2 linked regions of the Homo sapiens genome follow. The protein of the gene in region 1 interacts with the protein of each later gene in a biochemical or structural test. Each region holds a gene or a part of one and is shown on either strand. Other genes may lie near its edges.

Region 1 (3,755 bases):
GAAGTGCTATACAACTTGTAGCACATATATTCATGATGTAAAACAGCACCATTAGTAATAATAAACATGCATCTCATGAAAAAAATTTATGCCACTTCAAGGTAATGGATTTTTCTTTTTTTATTAAAAAAAAAAAAAAAAAAAAAAAAAAAAAAAAGAGAGACGGGGTTTTGCCATGTTGCCCAGGCTACAAATTCCTGGGCTAAAGTGATCCGCACACCTCAGCCTCCCAAAGTGCTGGGATTACAAGTGTGAGCCACAGCATCCGGCCAAGGCAATGGATTTTTGCCTTTGTCAATATTTTGATATTCAAATAATGAATATTGACTCTCCCCCCAAAATTTTACATACAGTTTCAGGGAATGCATCGATCCTCTAGAGAAGTTATTTCAAATGGCCCATAGAAAATCCCCTCATGCGATGAGAAATATTATTAATAAATGGGAGCATATTGTAAATGTAATCCCTGTAGAGCCTCCTATCCCTAAAAGGTTGAGAGTCATAGCTCTAGGAAGTCATGGTCCTCTATGTTAGAATTTTATGAGGTTTTGAAGAAATAAGACAAATCAAATGAACACCTAAAGAAAGGACAGCTCAGACCAAAACTTCAGACCTATATAAACATGCTGCATTTAATAGAAACCCCATATCTAATAATAAACCTGTTAGAAACAATGTTTACAGGCTCAAGGGTAGTTCTTAGGTTTCCAACTGGAGTTAAAAACACCTCTATACCATACAAGTAAAATTTAGGTAAAAACATCAAAAGCAACTTGAGAGGGAAAAAGGAACAAAAAGGTGTATGTTACTATCCACTTTATTTATTTATTTATTTATTTATTTATTTATTTATTTATTTATTTATTTTTTGAGAGAGTGTCTCACTCTGTAGTCCAGGCTGGAGTGCAGTGGTGCCATCTTGGCTCACTGCAAGCTCTGCCTCCTGAGTTCAAGCAATTCTCATGCCTCAGCCTCCTGAGTAACTGGGACTACAGGCACAGGCCAGCACCACCAAGCCTGGCTAATTTTTCTATTTTTAATAGAGACAGGGTTTTGCCATGTTGGGCAGGCTGGTCTCCAACTCCTGGCCTCAAGTCATCTGCGCGCCTTGGCCTCCAAAGTGTTGGGATTACAGGAGTGAGCCACTGCACCTGGCCCATCCACTTTACTGATGAGCATGTTCAAAAACTAATTATAGGTACTGGTAATCTCCATTTTTGCGATATTATAAGAATTAACTGAGTAATTATTTATCGAACATCTACTATACATACAACATGCTTTCTGAGAATTAAGATGACACAGGCTAGCATTCTGCCTACAAGAAGCTTAATAGGGATAAGACACAAACACAAATAACTGTAATATGAGGCAGAATGTGTTAAGTAACATGAGAGAGTAACCGATAAAGTGCGTGGAAATTCAGAGGAAGAGATTACTTCCAGCTGGTACAGTCAGGGATGACTTGATAGAAGAAACAGCATTTAGGCCGGGAGCGGTGGCTCATGCCTTAATCCAGCACTTTGGGAGCCAGGGCAGGCAGATCACCTGAGGTCAGGAGTTCGAGACCAGCCTGGTCAACATGGGAAAACCCTGTCTCTACCAAAAAATACAAAAAATTAGCCAAGTCTGGTGGTGCACGTCTGTAGTCCCAGCTACGGGGAGAGTGAGGTGGGAGGATTGCTTGAACCTGGGAGGCGGAAGTTGCAGTAAGCCAAGATCATACCACTTCACTCCAGCCTGGGCTACAAAGTGAGACTCTGCCTCAAAAAAAAAAAAGAAAGAAAGAAAGAAAGAAACAGAATTTAGATCATGCTTTGATGAATTCCAGGATTTGTTTGTTTTGAAACAGAGTCTTGCTCTATTGCCCAAGCTGTAGTGCAGTGGCGTGATCTTGGCTCAGTGCAGCCTCAACCTTCTGGGCTCAGGTGATTCTCCCACCTCAGCCTCCCAAGTATCTGGGACTACAGGCACAGGCCACCACACCTGGCTAATTTTTTGTATTTTTCTGTAGAGACAGGGTTTTGCCATGTTGCCCAGGCTGGTCTCAAACTCCCAACCTCAAGTGATCTGCCCGCCTGAGCCTCCCAAAGTGCTGGGATTACAGGCATGAGCCGCCACACCTGGCCAGAATTCCAGGCTTTCAGTACGTCAAGATGAAGAAAGAAGTAGGGTAAAATCATATGTCTCTCTTTGAGTCATTCCATTATCCAGATACAAGCAAAACAAGGCTTCCAAAATAGGACCATAGTTCCCCATACTAAGTATAGCATAAATCTCCGAACACCCAGGACACCACAAATTACAGGTTCCAGGCAGTTGACACAGGTCTCTCTGTTACAGCTACTAATATGGCTAGAAGGTATGGTCACCTCTAAACATGATAAATTTATCCTATCCTAAATTAACATTTGTCTTCTTAAAGTTCTTGAAATAATAAACCTCTTTACATTAATGTTTACTGGTTTAACAATTATTAAAATATAGCATATACTAAAAGGTAAGTTAACAATTTTCCCTATTGAAATTTGATCTGATTTTCTCTGAGGAAGAATTAATAAATATGATTACAAAGTTTTTGGTTTTTTTTTTTTTTTTTTTTTTTAACATTTTTGGAAAAAACATTCCAGATCTAAAAGGAACTTGCAAGAGCCCTTGATTGTCTTACAGATGTGAAAACTGAGGGCCCATAAGTTAGATGATCTCTCCAGGACGGTTAAAAAAAAAAAAAATTCCCTCATAAAGTTGAGCTTTGCCAAACAACTTTTAATAATTCTTACATGGTTTGAGTACACTATCTTTGGACTAAATAACAACTCTCTCCTACACAGACTTAACTACATGAATTGTTAAGTGCCTCAAGTAAAAAAACCTGGAGAATTAGGTTTCTGTTCTGCCTTTGCCACTAATTATGTGACCTTGGATAAGTCACTTAATTGATTATTGAAATATCCCTAACATAGGAGGTTAGTTTACATGAAATCCAAAGTGCTCTGTGTCTTTAAAGTTCTGTAAGTCTAAGCATTTGAAAACTACAGTAACAGAAAAAAAAAAAAACAACTACAGTGACAGAAAATGTACAATACTTCCATTTTATACCCACTGCTCCAGTTCTAACCACTTTGGAACAATATTTTATAGTAACATTAGGCTGCCAGAAGGCAAATTGTCTAACCATAACAAATTGTGTGTGCAAGAGAGATACAAGAATAACAGGTGGTATAATAATTCAGGATAAATATGCACAACTCTCTCTCAAAAAAAGTCAAGTTCTTTCTTGAATCTCTAAATGCTTCAGGATCCCTTACTTCCAGAATTATAGTCACCTTCTCCTTTGTAATTCACCGCAATATTTTATACACATATACATGCACACACAATTCATGGTCATATTAAGGCTAGTTTCTATAATTGTCAGGGAGGACTGTTCTGTCTTTTCTATTTATATGAAGCTATTATAGATAAAATCAGAGAGAAGATTACAATAAAATGTAGACCACATACGAAACCTAAAACTTGAAAAGTAATTTACTCAGTGAGGGTTTTAAGTCCATCACATTTCTATTCTAAAACAAAAGCTTGCAGAGAATTAAAACACACACACACACACACACACACACCCGTTATCAGTTTCTGCAGTGAACTTCTATATGAAGACATAAATAGATGGCAAATCAATGGAAACTCAAGAGAATCATTTTCTTTCTTTGCTGTCCCTCAAAACACAATTAAAAAGATACATAAATAATACAGGG
Region 2 (3,755 bases), on another chromosome or scaffold:
GATGTGAAGTTGAGTCAACTACCAAAGTACTAGGCATCAATGAACACAACTGAAGACATGAAAACCAGGATCATAAATATAAAATAGCTTATCTTCCTCATTCAGAAAATCCCCTAAAATGTACAAAAATAAGAGACCAGATGCATTTTTCTTCTTATTTAATTTTTTTAAATTTCTTTTTAATATTTGTTTATAATCAATCTGGGCCAGCTTGTTACTATTTCTAATTTTTAACTTTTCTTCAGTAAATTATAAAAATTTCATTTCCTATAACAAGTCCAGACAATCCAAAAGTATGATCTTCCAAACAAGAATGCTGAGTTCCTTAAAGGCAGGGTTCTTGTCCATCATGCTCAACACTATACCCTTACCACCTAACACAGTGCCTGACATTAGGTAAGTGCTCAGTAAGCATTATGTATGGAAATAAGAATAACATGAAAAGTTAAGGTATTCCAATACCTTTGCCTCTATCTATTCAATCAGCTACATATAAATACACATGTACACAGTAGAGTTTCACATAAAAATTAGACCATACCATAAACACTATTCTTTAACTGACTTTTTTCCCCTTATAGAGTTCAGTGTTTTAAACTTTCATATTTCTAGTTTCAAAATGTCTTGACTCCTTTAATGGCCTAAGTCAAGCTCCAAAACTGTAAATCCTTAAAAACTTATAGGGGTTTTAGATGAATACTCTGACCATTTGCTGGGCTCCTTGTCTTACTCTTTGTCAACGAGGATTATAACTAATGCTACATTTATCTGGATATAGCAAGCAATAAGATGGTCCACAGACATGACTTTTCTAGATAATCCCCCTTTTTATGGAAAAATGTTCAAGTTTATTAGTCATCAGAGAAATTAATTAAAACCACCGAATGGGCCGGGTGCGGTGGCTCACGCCTGTAATCCCAGCACTTTGGGAGGCCGAGGCAGGAAGACGACCCGAGGTCGGGAGTTCAAGACCAGCCTGACCAACATGGAGAAACCCCATCTCTACTAAAAATACAAAATTAGCCGGGCTTGGTGGCGCATGCCTGTAATTCCAGCTACTCGGGAGGCTGAGGCAGGAGAACCACTTGAACCCGGGAGGTGGAGGCTGCAGTGAGCCGAGATCACGCCACTGCACTCCAGCCTGGGCAACAGAACAAGACTCCATCGCAAAAAACAAACAAACAAACAAACAAACAAACAAAAAACAAACCAAAAAAACCCACCAAATGATAGCACTACACACCTACCAGCTAATAAAGAATTCCTTTGTTTTAATAACAGCTTTATTGAGATACAGTTCAAATACCATACAATTTATTCATATAAAGTATAAAACTCAATGGCTTTTAATATATTCACAGTTGTGCAACCATCCATTTTAGAACATTTTTATTCACTCCCCTAAGAAATTCATACCCATTAGCTGTCACTTCTCATTTCCTCCCAACCCCTCCAACCCTAGACAATCACTAACCTACTTTCTGTCTCTATAGATTTACCTATTCTGGACATTTCATAAGTGGAAGATAATTTCTTTTCCAAAATATTAGTCATTTTGGGAAAACTTTTTCTTAATTAACACCCAGTTTTTCCTTTTTAAACAGATTATAAGAATCCCAAGTTAACCATTCTTGATACTCAATGTTCATCACTATAAATAACAAATACAAAAATACTATAATGAGGTGATATCCTTATGGGCTTTTGAGATCTGTCAGGTGGTTTGAGTTTTGATTGCCCCAGGATGTGGTGCCTAAAAACTAGAAAACAGAAAGAAATGTCCTTCCTATAATTCTAATAGCTCTTTTCTCTGTAGGCAGCTGTCACTCTTTACTCCCATCACCTAAGTTCTGCGGTATAATCACAATATATAACTTCTTGAAGTTGCTTATGAAAAGACTTTACCTTTTTATGAATTAAATTTCACTGGTTCGGTTTGACACATAGACTTAATGAAAACAACTAAAGGAAGTAAACAGAGGAAATTTTGATTTATTTTTATAGGTTGCTAGTCTCTGGCTCTAACTTTTGCTATTATGATAGTCAGTTGTCTTTAAAGAATTGCCTATATTCTGTCTGCTTCCTCATTTCACACTAAGGCCTTCCAAATTAAGCAATTCAAAGGTTATTTCTCAATCTTGATCTTATTCTGAACACTTTCTCCTTCCCAAAATTCTCTTCTTCCTTGGCATCCAAGAGGCTTCTTCTCCCTCTTGGTTCATCTCGAACCCCTCGAATCACTGTTTCCCATACTAACTCTACTTCCTCTCTCTCCCTTAAATGATGGTCTGTCTTCTTATTCAACGTACTCCTTGAGCAATATCTTCTACTGCTTCTCCTTTGGCTCCTCCCTTCATGACGACAAATCACAAATATATTTCTAGCACAGACACCTCAACTAGACTGTCCCTTAGGTCCCTCAAAATCACCAGAGACAAGATGGAATTCATTATCCATTCTCTTCCACTCCAGAAAACTATCTCCTCCTGATTTTCCTTTCCTAGTTAATGACACCCCCTTTACCCAGTGACCTAAACTAGAAGCCTGAAAGTCAGCTCATTTATTTCTCCTTATTGGCCCTTATTTCTCCTTATTGGCCATCTCATTTATTTCTCCTTATTGGCCATCACCCAACAGACACACTGATTCATTTCCTTAAATTCTCACATCCATCTCCTTCTCTCCATTTCAAATGCTACTACCTAAGCTCAGGTTTCCTAACTGGTATTTTTGCCTCCTGTCTTGCCCAAATCATCCAATCTTTTCTTTAATTACCACCAAGTAATCATTTTAAAAACATATAAATCTGGTATCACTCCTGTATTTAAGTTCCTCAAATGGCTCCTAGTTATCTGCATGATAACATCTAAACTCCTGAGCGCCACAAACAGGTACTCCATGATCTGGCCCCTCTCATCTTCTGCCCCTTCTCTCACCATTTCTCCAGGTTTTCTCCATACAAAACCAATAACAGCTGCCCTGTATCTAGCTGTGTCATGCTTTTTGTCTTTGCACCTATACTGCTCTTTCCTATTTCACTGTGAATATCTCTCTATTATATTGCTTACCAAACTGTACATGCTATTACTTGGATATATGTTTATCTTCTGTATTAGAATAAAAGCTCCTTGAAAACAGAAGCCATTTCTTATTTATTTTTGAATTCCCTAAAAAGAAAACAGTGTCTGGTACACAGTAAGCATTCAATAAATGTTTGCTGAGTAAGTTCTCCGGATAATGTTGTCAAAGGCCTGAGCTCTGTATGAATGAAATTTCCTGTCTTTCAGTTCCTTTCATGATTCCCAAACCTTCCCACATCCTCTTTCCTTTATTCTCAGTTATGACAGACCCTCTGTACCTTAATCTTATAGTCATCTCCTCCAGAGACGAACAGTGGCTGCTGCTTATGGAAGTCAATGCCTCGCACTGGACCTGGTGGAGAAGGCAGGCAATGTATGTTAGACAGAGCTATCCTTTCTAATCTCTAAGGTGATTCCTATTCAGGATTTTTCAGTTCTATCATTTCCACATTCTTTAATCATAGAGGAATCCATGTCAAACAAGGCTTAAAATACCCCAGGATATTATAAATACTTATACTCCTTTAACTTCCTCCTAGAAATATCTCACCATCATGTTCATCAAACTTGTCAATGAGAGTGCACATCCGATAGTCCCATAACTGGATGACCCCATTATGTAAACTAGTCAGGATCCAAGGTCTTTTGGGGTGAAAGCTGAGCCCTGAAAAAAAT

Evidence for each region. Proteins that work in one complex are often made in the same cells at the same time.
Region 2: the proteins of ARCN1 (region 1) and COPA form a complex in vitro, tested with the Homo sapiens proteins (one study listed by BioGRID).

What each region holds. Positions count from the first base shown.
Region 1 is NC_000011.10:118,575,277-118,579,031, reverse strand, and holds part of ARCN1 (coatomer subunit delta), read right to left. Parts: exon of another isoform or gene 2,134-3,755; intron 1-2,133. UniProt on the Homo sapiens protein: Component of the coatomer, a cytosolic protein complex that binds to dilysine motifs and reversibly associates with Golgi non-clathrin-coated vesicles, which further mediate biosynthetic protein transport from the ER, via the Golgi up to the trans Golgi network.
Region 2 is NC_000001.11:160,336,551-160,340,305, forward strand, and holds part of COPA (coatomer subunit alpha), read right to left. Parts: intron 3,745-3,755; coding exon 3,631-3,744; intron 3,433-3,630; coding exon 3,359-3,432; intron 1-3,358. UniProt on the Homo sapiens protein: The coatomer is a cytosolic protein complex that binds to dilysine motifs and reversibly associates with Golgi non-clathrin-coated vesicles, which further mediate biosynthetic protein transport from the ER, via the Golgi up to the trans Golgi network.